Linked DNA regions of Homo sapiens. The protein of the gene in region 1 interacts with the protein of each later gene in a pairwise test. Each region holds a gene or a part of one and is shown on either strand. Other genes may lie near its edges.

Region 1 (2,782 bases):
GGACACATGGGTTCCAATGAATTTCGACATCTTTTGCTGTCGTTCTTCGGAAGACCTAGGCACAGGTGGCCAGATGTGGGGTTTCTTAGGTCCTGTTCCCTCTCAGGCATGTGAGCTCTTGATCTGAGTTTCTCAGGCCAGCAAAAGAGTGGGATCCAGGCCCTGCCTGGAGAAATGTGAGGGCCCTGAGTGAACACAGTGGGGATCATCCACTCCATGAGAGTGGGGACCTCACAGAGTCCAGCCTACCCTCTTGATGGCACTGAGGGACCGGGGCTGTGCTTACAGTCTGCACCCTAAGGGCCCATGGATTCCTCTCCTAGGAGCTCCAGGAACAAGGCAGTGAGGCCTTGGTCTGAGACAGTGTCCTCAGGTTACAGAGCAGAGGATGCACAGGCTGTGCCAGCAGTGAATGTTTGCCCTGAATGCACACCAAGGGCCCCACCTGCCACAAGACACATAGGACTCCAAAGAGTCTGGCCTCACCTCCCTACCATCAATCCTGCAGAATCGACCTCTGCTGGCCGGCTATACCCTGAGGTGCTCTCTCACTTCCTCCTTCAGGTTCTGAGCAGACAGGCCAACCGGAGGACAGGATTCCCTGGAGGCCACAGAGGAGCACCAAGGAGAAGATCTGTAAGTAAGCCTTTGTTAGAGCCTCTAAGATTTGGTTCTCAGCTGAGGTCTCTCACATGCTCCCTCTCTCCGTAGGCCTGTGGGTCCCCATTGCCCAGCTTTTGCCTGCACTCTTGCCTGCTGCCCTGACCAGAGTCATCATGTCTTCTGAGCAGAAGAGTCAGCACTGCAAGCCTGAGGAAGGCGTTGAGGCCCAAGAAGAGGCCCTGGGCCTGGTGGGTGCACAGGCTCCTACTACTGAGGAGCAGGAGGCTGCTGTCTCCTCCTCCTCTCCTCTGGTCCCTGGCACCCTGGAGGAAGTGCCTGCTGCTGAGTCAGCAGGTCCTCCCCAGAGTCCTCAGGGAGCCTCTGCCTTACCCACTACCATCAGCTTCACTTGCTGGAGGCAACCCAATGAGGGTTCCAGCAGCCAAGAAGAGGAGGGGCCAAGCACCTCGCCTGACGCAGAGTCCTTGTTCCGAGAAGCACTCAGTAACAAGGTGGATGAGTTGGCTCATTTTCTGCTCCGCAAGTATCGAGCCAAGGAGCTGGTCACAAAGGCAGAAATGCTGGAGAGAGTCATCAAAAATTACAAGCGCTGCTTTCCTGTGATCTTCGGCAAAGCCTCCGAGTCCCTGAAGATGATCTTTGGCATTGACGTGAAGGAAGTGGACCCCGCCAGCAACACCTACACCCTTGTCACCTGCCTGGGCCTTTCCTATGATGGCCTGCTGGGTAATAATCAGATCTTTCCCAAGACAGGCCTTCTGATAATCGTCCTGGGCACAATTGCAATGGAGGGCGACAGCGCCTCTGAGGAGGAAATCTGGGAGGAGCTGGGTGTGATGGGGGTGTATGATGGGAGGGAGCACACTGTCTATGGGGAGCCCAGGAAACTGCTCACCCAAGATTGGGTGCAGGAAAACTACCTGGAGTACCGGCAGGTACCCGGCAGTAATCCTGCGCGCTATGAGTTCCTGTGGGGTCCAAGGGCTCTGGCTGAAACCAGCTATGTGAAAGTCCTGGAGCATGTGGTCAGGGTCAATGCAAGAGTTCGCATTGCCTACCCATCCCTGCGTGAAGCAGCTTTGTTAGAGGAGGAAGAGGGAGTCTGAGCATGAGTTGCAGCCAGGGCTGTGGGGAAGGGGCAGGGCTGGGCCAGTGCATCTAACAGCCCTGTGCAGCAGCTTCCCTTGCCTCGTGTAACATGAGGCCCATTCTTCACTCTGTTTGAAGAAAATAGTCAGTGTTCTTAGTAGTGGGTTTCTATTTTGTTGGATGACTTGGAGATTTATCTCTGTTTCCTTTTACAATTGTTGAAATGTTCCTTTTAATGGATGGTTGAATTAACTTCAGCATCCAAGTTTATGAATCGTAGTTAACGTATATTGCTGTTAATATAGTTTAGGAGTAAGAGTCTTGTTTTTTATTCAGATTGGGAAATCCGTTCTATTTTGTGAATTTGGGACATAATAACAGCAGTGGAGTAAGTATTTAGAAGTGTGAATTCACCGTGAAATAGGTGAGATAAATTAAAAGATACTTAATTCCCGCCTTATGCCTCAGTCTATTCTGTAAAATTTAAAAAATATATATGCATACCTGGATTTCCTTGGCTTCGTGAATGTAAGAGAAATTAAATCTGAATAAATAATTCTTTCTGTTAACTGGCTCATTTCTTCTCTATGCACTGAGCATCTGCTCTGTGGAAGGCCCAGGATTAGTAGTGGAGATACTAGGGTAAGCCAGACACACACCTACCGATAGGGTATTAAGAGTCTAGGAGCGCGGTCATATAATTAAGGTGACAAGATGTCCTCTAAGATGTAGGGGAAAAGTAACGAGTGTGGGTATGGGGCTCCAGGTGAGAGTGGTCGGGTGTAAATTCCCTGTGTGGGGCCTTTTGGGCTTTGGGAAACTCCATTTTCTTCTGAGGGATCTGATTCTAATGAAGCTTGGTGGGTCCAGGGCCAGATTCTCAGAGGGAGAGGGAAAAGCCCAGATTGGAAAAGTGCTCTGAGCGGTTCCTTTGTGACAATGGATGAACAGAGAGGAGCCTCTACCTGGGGCAGGAATGGAAGGTGTCTTGCGCTTTTGTCCCAGTGTTGTTGAACACAGTGCATGAGCTAGGTGATGGACACCCGTTATTTGCAAGGGTTTCCTGTGA
Region 2 (3,500 bases), on another chromosome or scaffold:
GATTTCTTTTTTTATATACAATTATTGGTTTATGCTATTATCTTTTAAAACTTTAGAAAAAAAAGAAGAGTTACAAACCAAAAATAGGTAGTTCTTTGATGAGTGCTTTTTTTATGTCTTTGTCTGGGTTCAAGTTATTGTCTAATGTCCCTTCATTTCAGCTTGAAGAAGTCCCTTTGTCATTTTTTGTAGGTAAGATCTACTAGAGATAAGCTCAGTTTTTGTCTGTCTGAGAATGTCTTAAATTCTTCTTCATATTGGAAAGATAGTTTGGCCAGATACAAAATTCTTTGTGGATTATTCAATTACTTTGAAGATGTCATCCCATTGCTCTCTGGCTTCCATGATTTCTGATGAAAAATTAGCTGTTAACTTATTGAGGCTCTCTTGTACATAAGTCACTTCACTCTTGCTACTTTTAAGATTATTTTTGGCTTTTAATAGTTTAATTATAACTTGGTGTGGCTCTCTGTTAACTTACATAGAGTTTGTTGAGCTTCTTTGATGTATAGCTTTATGCCTTTTGTCAAATTTCAAAAGTTTTAAACCATTATTTCCTTAAGCATTCTTTCTGTCCCCTTCTCTCCTCTCTTCTGGGACTCCAACTATGCATAACAGTCCCACAGGTTTCTGAGGCTCTGCTCATTTTTATTCATTCTTTTTTTTCCCTGATCTTCAGCATAATCTCAATTGACCTATTTTCAGTTTCATGAATTCTTTCTTTTGCCTGCTCAAATCTGATTTGAACACTTCTTGCGAATTTCTCATTTCAGTTATTATGCTTTTCAACACCATAATTTCTCTTTGGTTCCTTTTTATAACTTCTACATCTTTGCTGGTATTCACTATTTGGTGAGACATCAGTCTCATGGTTTCCTTATTTGCAAATTGTTTCCTTTAGCTATTTGAGAATATTTAAAATAATTGATATAAAATCTTTGTCTAGTGAGTCCAATGTCTGAGCTTCCTCAGGAATAGTTTCTATTAATTTCCTTTTCTCCTGTCCATGGGCCATATGTTCTTATTTATTTATACTTGTTGAATATCCGATACTTTGACAAGTATAATGTGAAATCTCTGGAAATCAGAATCTTCCACCTTCTCTGGGGTTTTTTGTTACTTCTTGTTGTAGTTGTTTTGTTTAGTTAGTGACTTTTCTAAACAAATTTTGTAAAGTCTGTATTCTTCGTCACATGTAGCTACTGAATTCTGTCCCATGAACTTAGTAGTCATCTAATAGTTCAACAGAGATTTCCTTAAATGCCTAGAATCAACCCAAATCAAACAACAACAACAACAAAAACCTCCCAGTCTTTGTAAATGGGCTTCGTATATGTTGAGCATGCCTTCAACACACAGTTTACAACTTCCTTAGTCCTCAGTTCCTGCTTACACAGATCCTAAAAGTCACTCCGAGAAGAAAACTTGGGGTCTTTCTCAGGTTTTTTTTTTTTTTTTAGTATGCACTCAGTCCTGGGCATGCAGTTGGCCTTCTAGATTACCAGGAATATGTGGGTACTTTTCAAAGGGTATTCCCCAAAATAACTCTTTCCCCAGCCTTTCTTTCTCAGCTTTTTGGTTACTCTATTGTTTGCCCCAACTATTATGCCTTTCCCCAGGTGGCAGCAATAAAAACATTTGCTTTTAAATGTTTCCAAACTATACCTCCAGGGTAGCCATCTCATCTGTGAAAAAGTTCTGAGTTAAACAAACTAATGGCAAGCCTTTTATGTAATACTTCATGGAAGCACCAGACAGGTCAAAGCCACAGTTCTTTGGGAATAAGGTCCATGCTGCTCCCACTTGTACTATGTACCTGTAGTTGGAATGTCAGCTGTCTTTAAAACCACCACCAAGATGGGAAATGAGGAAAACCTGAGTAAGTTAAAGTGTTAAAAAGTTATTTTACAGAGATTCAAGGTTTTATTTAATTATTATTAAATATTTCCCTGGTTGCTGTAAGCTTTTGATTAGTTTCAAGTTTTAAAAAACTCGATCTTCAAAATTTTTGCCAGTTTTTGTGGAGGGATGGACTTTGGGACTTCTCTACTCCACCATTTTTTTTATTATTATTATACTTTAAGTTTTAGGGTACATGTGCACAATGTGCAGGTTAGTTACATATGTATACATGTGCCATGTTGGTGTGCTGCACCCATTAACTCATCATTTAGCATTAGGTATATCTCCTAATGCTATCCCTCCCCCCTCCCCCCACCCCACAACAGTCCCCAGAGTGTGATGTTCCCCTTCCTGTGTCCATGTGTTCTCAGTGTTCAATTCCCACCTATGAGTGAGAACATGCAGTGTTTGGTTTTTTGTCCTTGCAATAGTTTACTGAGAATGATGATTTCCAATTTCATCCATGTCCCTAAAAAGGACATGAACTCATCATTTTTTATGGCTGCATAGTATTCCATGGTGTATATGTGCCACATTTTCGTAATCCAGTCTATCATTGTTGGACATTTGGGTTGGTTCCAAGTCTTTGTTATTGTGAATAGTGCCACAATAAACATACATGTGCATGTGTCTTTATAGCAGCATGATTTATAGTCCTTTGGGTATATACCCTGTAATGGGATTGCTGGGTCAAATGGTATTTCTAGTTCTAGATCCCTGAGGAATCACCACACTGACTTCCACAATGGTTGAACTAGTTTACAGTCCCACCAACAGTGTAAAAGTGTTCCTATTTATCCACATCCTCTGTAGCACCTGTTGTTTCCTGACTTTTCAATGATGCCATTCTAACTGGTGTGAGATGGTATCTCATTGTGGTTTTGATTTGCATTTCTCTGATGGCCAGTGATGGTGAGAATTTTTTCATGTGATTTTGGCTGCATAAATGTCTTCTGAGAAGTGTCTGTTCATGTCCTTTGCCCACTTTTTGATGGGGTTGTTTTTTTCTTGTAAATTTGTTTGAGTTCATTGTAGATTCTGGATATTAGCCCTTTGTCAGATGAGTAGGTTGCGAAAATTTTCTCCCATTTTGTAGATTGCCTGTTCACTCTGATGGTAGTTTCTTTTGCTGTGCAGAAGCTCTTTAGTTTAATTAGATCGCATTTGTCAATTTTGGCTTTTGTTGCCCTTGCTTTTGGTGTTTTAGACATGAAGTCCTTGCCCATGCCTATGTCCTGAATGGTAATGCCTAGGTTTTCTTCTAGGGTTTTTATGGTTTTAGGTCTAATGTTTAAGTCTTTAATCAGTCTTGAATTAATTTTTGTATAAGGTGTAGGGAAGGGATCCAGTTCCAGCTTTCTACATATGGCTAGCCAGTTTTCCCAGCACCATTTATGAAATAGGGAATCCTTTCCCCATTGCTTGTTTTTCTCAGGTTTCCAAAGGTTAGATAGTTGTAGATATGCGGCATTATTTCTGAGGGCTCTGTTCTGTTCCATTGATCTCTATCTCTGTTTTGGTACCAGTACCATGCTGTTTTGGTTACTGTAGCCTTGTAGTATAGTTTGAAGTCAGGTAGCATGATGCCTCTAGCTTTG
Region 3 (3,500 bases), on another chromosome or scaffold:
GGGAAGGAGAGGTAGGTATGTACTTTAAGGAGGAAGGGCTGAGGGCATTGATTTGTGATGGGCAAGCCCCAAGGAAACCATCATTGCAGCAGCATCCTGGGTGAGCCTGTGTGGCAGTCATCTTCCTGAATGCATAAGGACATTCCCCCAGTCTACCATGCCCTTCCTTCAGCACAGGTGGCTATGTCCCTCCACCCTTCTGCCAAGCAACATGGACCCACTGAAGGCCCCATCTTGTGCTCAGCCTCTGCAGGCTTCCAGAATGGGACAGGTGCCTGTCAGGTGGGAATTTCCTCGTAGCTCCAGCTGGCGATGCTACTGTTTTAACTTTGCCACAGTTGTGGACCCAGCCTTCCCTCTGCTAAGCCAATTAATGAGGCCAGTCGACACGATTCTATGAAAGAGTTCCTCCTGGCCCTTGGGGTCTTGTGTGGGATCATTAGGAAAAGACATTTCACATAGGCAGATGAATTTTTTATAGCAGAATCCTATGTGCACAGTAGATTTAAATCTCTCTTATGCTAAGGAGGGGAATGTACCCTGCCTCAATTTTATAGAATTCCTTACCAACTATTGTCATCATGTAGAGTTTGAAAAGCACCAATGGTAAGGCATTAAAGGGACCTTATGCATTTTATTAAAGCCCTTTATGTCTCAGGCATTATATATGGGTGGATGGGTGGGAGAGAGAGCGAGGGAGAGAGAGAGATTCTTCTCCCTGAACACTTTCTAACCTGGCCTCACATTAACGCAGTGCCCAGGCTGGGGGTTGGGTGGGGCCTGAGGCTTCCCCGTGGCCAGCATGATCGTTGGAAAGAGTAGTATGGGACAAGATGGGGCTTCTCTTGCCACCCAGAGCTTGACAGAGAGCCCATTATCTCCAAAATGGTACTGAATGATTTGAAACAAGAAAAAAAGCTTCTAAGATTTTTGATGTTCCTTAAAGGTATCTTCTCTGAAGGTATTTTTTTAAGCCTCCTCTTTGGTTGAATCTCAAAAACGTTTTTAGACAAAATTCCACTTACTGGATCCTCTTTGGTTGAATCTCAAAAATGTTTTTCGACAAAAAACCACTTACTGGATAGGCACAGTGGCTCACTCATCCCAGCACTTTGGGAGGCCAGAGCAGGGGGACTGCATGAGGCCAGGAGTTTGAGACCAACCTGGGCAACAGAGCCAGACCCCATCTCTAAAAAAAAAATGTTTTTTAATTAGTCAGGCAATGTGGCATGAGCCTGTAGTCCCAGCTATGAGGGAGGCTGAGGCTGGAGGATTGGTTGAGCCCAGGATTTCAAGGCTGAAGTGAGCCATGATTGCACCACTGCATTCCAGCCAGGGCAGTGGAATAAGACTCTTTCTCGTATGTAAAAAACCAATTCCACTTATGTTTCCTATTTTTTGTTTTCTTCCATTGGCTGTTTTTTTGTATAAACTGTAGACAGAAGCAAAGTGGCTCTCATTTATAAATGAATTTGCTGATTCCCACAGAGGAACCTTATCTTGTCTGACCAGTGCCCAAATTTCTTCCCCTGCAAACAAACTGACGCAAAGAAAACACTCTGCCAAAGAGCCAGGCAGGAAAAGACTGTGGTGCTTGGCCCTGTAGGGGGACCTTGTATAATGCGTGTGTGGCTTCCGAGGAGTTGCTCGGGGGCAGAGGCTGAGGTTGGGAATGCCAAGATGAGGCTTTTCCTCTAGCAGGGCCAGATGCCTTTCAAGAGCATTCGGTGGACCGAGAGGGAATCAGGAGCAGGGGCAGGTGTGTCTTCCTCCTCATGCCAACACCATACTGCTGAGGACAGACCCTCTCTCAGCCCACACTCTGCATGCAACAGATATGCCCCTTGCCCCCCAGATGCCCGCAGGAGGCCTTTGTGCACAGTCACCAAGTGCAAGGAGCACTCCAAGGCTTAAAGCACCTAGTCACCTGGCAGGTGACCTCAGGAAGAGCCATCCTCTCTGGCCAAGTACCTGCACCATTGGGCAAAGGGCTCCTGTGTCTCTTATCCACTCCATTTATGATCTGTCAGCCAGTGAGAAAGACGAGGATAGCAAACACATTCCGCCAGCTCTGGATGGAACGTGCCTTTCAGAAGCGGGAGGCCCTCCAGCCGCAGTGGTTCTTAGGTCTCACAGAACCACGGGATGGCTTTTAAAGGAAGTGTCCTGTGTGTCGAATCTTTCAGCTGAAAGTGGACAAAGTAGCGGGCAGTTCCAAGGGCGGCCCTCGGAAGTCTGGTCGCAGTGGCAAAGCCAGCACCATGGCCAGCAGAGCGGTGAGCAGCACTCCCACCAGCAGCCCGGTCAGACTGAAGTGTTCCAGGTAAATCGAGCGAGCACCGCCTTCTCGTAGGTACCGGCGCCTTCTCTCTGCTTCCTTTCCCCCTCGGTCTCTGCCGCACCACCGCCTGCCCGATAGCCGTCGTGAGTTCTGGCCCAGCCTGGGCTCGAGGGAGTCCAGGAGTAGAAAGCCCCATCCTACCCAGCCAGAAACGTCAGGTGCATGTGGGAAGGAGAAGGGGCTGATGTAGCCTTCGAGCTAAGCCACACAATAGAGGAGGCTGCAGTTGGAGATGCTTCCCAGACTCCAGAGCTATCCAGGGTAGAGGCACAAAACCAAGGCCAAAGGGGGTCTCTCCTAAGAGCTGCAGGCACCCCCAGGCTTGGCTGTCTGTCACTGGCTGACCCTCTTTCTTCCCACCGTAGCCCCCAGGATGTGGAGGACATCCCCACCCAGGCCCTTGCTCAGTGCCAGCCTTGCCCTGGCTCTGCTCTCCTCTGTGGTTAAGCTCAGGGAGAGTCCCCGATTGAGGATACCTGGGCACCTTGAAACTCTCCATTATTTGAGACCTTTCTAGACCATCCCTCGTGTCTAAGGCAGACTGTGTGGCTGGGGATGGCACTGCTGCAGCCCCACAGAGCAGGCCCCTGCCCTTTGTGGGCTTCCTTGGCTCAACTTTCAGCCAGAAACATTCCTACTGGAAGGCTTCAAATGGAGGTACGAGCCCATTAACTCCCCTTCAGCCATCCCTCCAGGTCCTTCTAACAGGAACCCAGGCACGTCCTGCATGCCCCAGGCCTGCCCTGCAAAGCAATGATAGGGGCAGGAACCACATCGTGGGAGGGTTCTGAGACTCCCAGGATTGCAACCCCTCCTTCTCAAGAATCAGTGCTCCATATACCCCACCCTCATCCCAAGCCCCTCTCCTGCCGGGGTCAGCTGTGTCTTCACAGACAAAGGCCTGGGACTCAGATGTCACTCAGGGCAGCATTCTGTGAATGTACAGGGGAACGGCTCACCCAGGCCTTCGCCTGCCTCCCCTGACTGCAGCCATCTCCTCCTTCCTCCTTCTGTAAGGCCTTGTTCCTTGCCCATTCTGAGGCCCCACAGCAACCCTGTAAGGCAGAATTTCCTGACATGGATCTTCATGGTCACGATGCTAAAAAGAATTCTTGGCCAAATAAGCTTACGAAAAACTGGTTAAACAAAGTTATTGAGT
Region 4 (3,289 bases), on another chromosome or scaffold:
CATCCCTCAGCTCGGGGTCCCTTCCTCCACCTTCACAGCCATGCGCAGCCTCTTCCAGTCTCTCTCTGATTCACCCTCCTGCCACCTCTTGTGAGGACACTGGGTCCCGGACCACCCAGGATCATCTCCCAGCTCAAGACCTTTCATCATACCCAAGCCCCTCTTGCCAGGTGAAGTTGCGCATCTGCAGGTTCCAGGAATAGGATGTGGCCGTCTCAGGACACCCTGTCCCTCTGGCCACAGGGAAGCCAGGCCTGTGACAGCACTCGCCTCCCCTGCAGGGACTGGGCCTTTGTGGGCACAGCACAGCCTCCCCTAGCGCACGGGACTTCCTCCCCAGGTGGGTGGCTCATCGGGCACTTGTGGCCAGGTGCTGGCCTGAGAACAGGTATCCACATGGTCCCACCTTGACAGGGAGCCACACCCAGCCCCCAAGCCATCCGCTCTTCAGCAGGTGGGCCTGCCCTGTGTCCCACGGTTTCAACGGAGAACCAAGAAACTATATTCAAACAACCTGTTTATTTGGGCTTATGATTTACTAACTGCAGGTCTATGTGCAGGAAGGCCAGCATCCCCTCCTGCCGTTGTCACCCACATCCACAGAGCAGCCCTAGTGCCAGGTGCAGCCACTGCCACCCACGGCACACGGGAACAGGACCCATGCTGCAGGCCTGCTCTCCTGCCCAGGGAGATGCCACGTGTGTCTGTCCGGCAGCTTCATGACACAGTTACCAAGCAGCTAGGGAGGGCTTAGATTTGTTGGTGTCCCCAGGCCTCTCCCTCGGGGGCTTGGGCGCATCCCCACAGCCCCCAAGGGATGGGGGCTCTGCCACGGGGCCCAATTCCACAGCTCCACGGCTGGCGCCCCTCCCGTGCCCATGGGGCAGAGCCAAGTATTTCCAGAGGTGGCTTGGAGGCCCTGGGGTGGCGGGGAGAGGAACAGGGAGAGCATGAGACAGACCCACAGGGCTGAGGCCAACCCTGCTTTTATTTCACAAGAGCTTCTCGATGGCTGACAGGAGCTCGGGTTTCAGGATGGAGTCCGGCTCGGCCCCCGCGGCCTTGATGTCCTCCAGCACAGCCATGTCCCACGAGAAGGTCAGGAGGGCAGAGGGCACCTGCGGTAGGGGTAGGCCGTCACTCTGAGACCGAGAGTCGGCCCTTGCCGCGGCAGGGAACTCAGCGGGCAACCTGGGCGCGGGGATGCCCCGGCCTGGAAGCCATCTCAGCTGGTGGAGGCTGTGGCTCGCACCCAGGCCTCCTGCCCTCTCCCTCCGGGACTCCAGGACCTAAGCCTAAACCTACTGCACTAGCTAACGCACGTCACCGCTCCCATTTGATGGGGAAACTGAGGCGTGGAGTAGTTATGAACTTGCTCGAGGCCCTGCTGCCAGTAAGTGGGAAAGCAGGATTCAAACCCAGGGACCTGCCCAGGCCCCCTGCTCTGAGAACAAGGAGGCTCCCTCCTGGGGGTGTCTGTGCCGGTCCCAGGAGAACCTGCAGAGGCATCGGGTCAGCGGTGCTCCTGCGGGCCGACACTCACCAGCCCGCACTCGTTCAAGGCCAGGTTCTCGTCCTCGGACAGCTTCTGCCCTCCCGAGGCCAGCAGCTCAAAAGGCAGCCAGTCGCTCTGCAGGGCCTCCCGGACGAACCCGTACACCGCCCCCAGCCGCTCCCGAGCGTAGAAAGTGCCTGGGGAGTGGGGGAGTCAGAGCGGGTGGGGCCCAGGGCCCCCTACCAACCCGAGCCGCCCTCCACGGGCATCGTTGGTGCCCACCCTGCAGGAGGCAGCCATCGGGGAGGCGCACGCGCAGCAGCGTGTAGTTGTACTTGCGCAGCCCCCGCTGCTCCTCCTTCTCCCGCATGGCCTTGGTCCGCAGCACGCTCAGCCGCTCCACCGCCTCGGACCTGCACACGCGGGCCAGGTCACGAGGGCTGGCCGGGGTTCTTCCACCCCGCCCCGCCCCACTCTGCTCCGCGGACGTCAGGCCCACCTGAGCCTCTGCTCCCGCTTGATCTCCTCTGCTGTGAGGTTGAAGAAGTCCCCAGGCAGTTCGAACTGCGAGGCCAGGGGCGAGGGCTGGAAGACGCGGCGCTGCCTGTCCAGCTTGGCGCGCACGGGCTCCGCAGCCAGCAGCTGTTCCTTGTGCCTCTCCAGGCTCTGGGGCTGGGCCAAGGTGGTCTCGCTCAGCACGTAGAACTCCTCGGGGTCCTCTACAGCGTGGCAGGACATGGGTGTCACTGTGCAATGGAGAGACCCCCAAGCCGGGCCCTCCTGCCCCGAGGCCCCTCGTCCCCATTCCCTACTCAGCCAGGCCCTGTCCACTTACCCTGATCCTGGGCGGGAAGCAACACCTTCTGGAACCCAATGGCCTCAAAAAACTCGTGGGTCCCTTCCAGGCAGTTAATGCGCTCCTGGGGGTGGAGATGGGCGTCACTGGGGGCCCCTGGCTTCCTCCATGGCCTGGCCACACCCCACCCAGTCCAGGGGCCCGGCTCTCGCTATTGGGAGCAGCTGTCGACCCCTGGATGGGGCCCAGCCCTGGGGGTGCCTCAGTGCTGGATGCAAACCTGCTTTTCTACGGTGGGGGCTGTGGAGTCTCCAACAGCTCTGCACAGAGGAAAGAGTCACAACCAGGCACGAAGAGTGAGGCTGAGGAGCCAGACACTGCTGGGGCCTGATGCGAGGCTAACACCGCCCAGGACCCCAGTCCCTGCCCTTTCCCCCAGAAGAACCAGACATCTGGTTTGCATGAGAAACCTCCCCAGAGTCGACATGTTCCCAAACAAGCCCAGCTGAAGAGGAGGAAAAGGATGCAGGTGAGGAGAGGCAGAATTTGTTGATTTGGGGTGACCGGTGCATAAAAGTCTTGCTCTCCATCTTGTCCTGCTACCTTCTACTGGCCGAACCCTTCACTGCTTGTGGCTCAACTCTCGCTAGCTCCTCCAGGGAGCCCACCGCCTGGTGTGGGCCACCACCGGCTCCTGCAGGCCAGCTGCCCCCACCCCCAGCCTGGGCCCCGGGGGCCAGAAGGCACGCCCACCTGAAACACCTTGTTCTGCAGCTTGATCTTCCGGTACTTCTCCTCCTCGGGGTGCAGGTGGATGTTGTCCAGGTACCTGGGGTAGGTGGAGAAGGTGAGTGGGGCACAGCCCAGGCTGCCCACCCGGCCCCTCTGTGCCTCCTGCTCCAGGTAACAGCAGCTCAGCCACACTTGGCCTCTAGTCAGAGGGAAGAAGCGGCCCAGTGACGCGAGGGCAGCAGACCATCTCCGGGTGGAAGGCACAC

Evidence for each region. The genes of interacting proteins can lie anywhere in the genome.
Region 2: the proteins of MAGEA4 (region 1) and TRIM69 interact in binary tests that used the Homo sapiens proteins (3 or more experiments, as listed by UniProt).
Region 3: the proteins of MAGEA4 (region 1) and ARNT2 interact in a two-hybrid assay, tested with the Homo sapiens proteins (one large-scale study listed by BioGRID and IntAct).
Region 4: the proteins of MAGEA4 (region 1) and UBXN6 interact in binary tests that used the Homo sapiens proteins (3 or more experiments, as listed by UniProt).

Annotation. Positions count from the first base shown.
Region 1 is NC_000023.11:151,922,889-151,925,670, forward strand, and holds the end of MAGEA4 (melanoma-associated antigen 4), read left to right. Parts: intron 1-323; exon of another isoform or gene 324-564; 5' UTR 565-636; intron 637-711; 5' UTR 712-776; coding exon 777-1,730; 3' UTR 1,731-2,282; downstream 2,283-2,782. UniProt on the Homo sapiens protein: Regulates cell proliferation through the inhibition of cell cycle arrest at the G1 phase. Also negatively regulates p53-mediated apoptosis.
Region 2 is NC_000015.10:44,743,028-44,746,527, reverse strand, and holds part of TRIM69 (E3 ubiquitin-protein ligase TRIM69), read right to left. Parts: intron 1-3,500.
Region 3 is NC_000015.10:80,589,382-80,592,881, forward strand, and holds part of ARNT2 (aryl hydrocarbon receptor nuclear translocator 2), read left to right. Parts: intron 1-2,186; coding exon 2,187-2,323; intron 2,324-3,500. UniProt on the Homo sapiens protein: Transcription factor that plays a role in the development of the hypothalamo-pituitary axis, postnatal brain growth, and visual and renal function. Specifically recognizes the xenobiotic response element (XRE).
Region 4 is NC_000019.10:4,444,506-4,447,794, forward strand, and holds the end of UBXN6 (UBX domain-containing protein 6), read right to left. Parts: exon of another isoform or gene 3,121-3,289; coding exon 3,045-3,120; exon of another isoform or gene 2,683-3,044; coding exon of another isoform or gene 2,600-2,682; exon of another isoform or gene 2,416-2,599; coding exon 2,331-2,415; exon of another isoform or gene 2,215-2,330; coding exon 1,995-2,214; exon of another isoform or gene 1,909-1,994; coding exon 1,778-1,908; exon of another isoform or gene 1,693-1,777; coding exon 1,544-1,692; exon of another isoform or gene 1,119-1,543; coding exon 993-1,118; 3' UTR 501-992; downstream 1-500. UniProt on the Homo sapiens protein: May negatively regulate the ATPase activity of VCP, an ATP-driven segregase that associates with different cofactors to control a wide variety of cellular processes.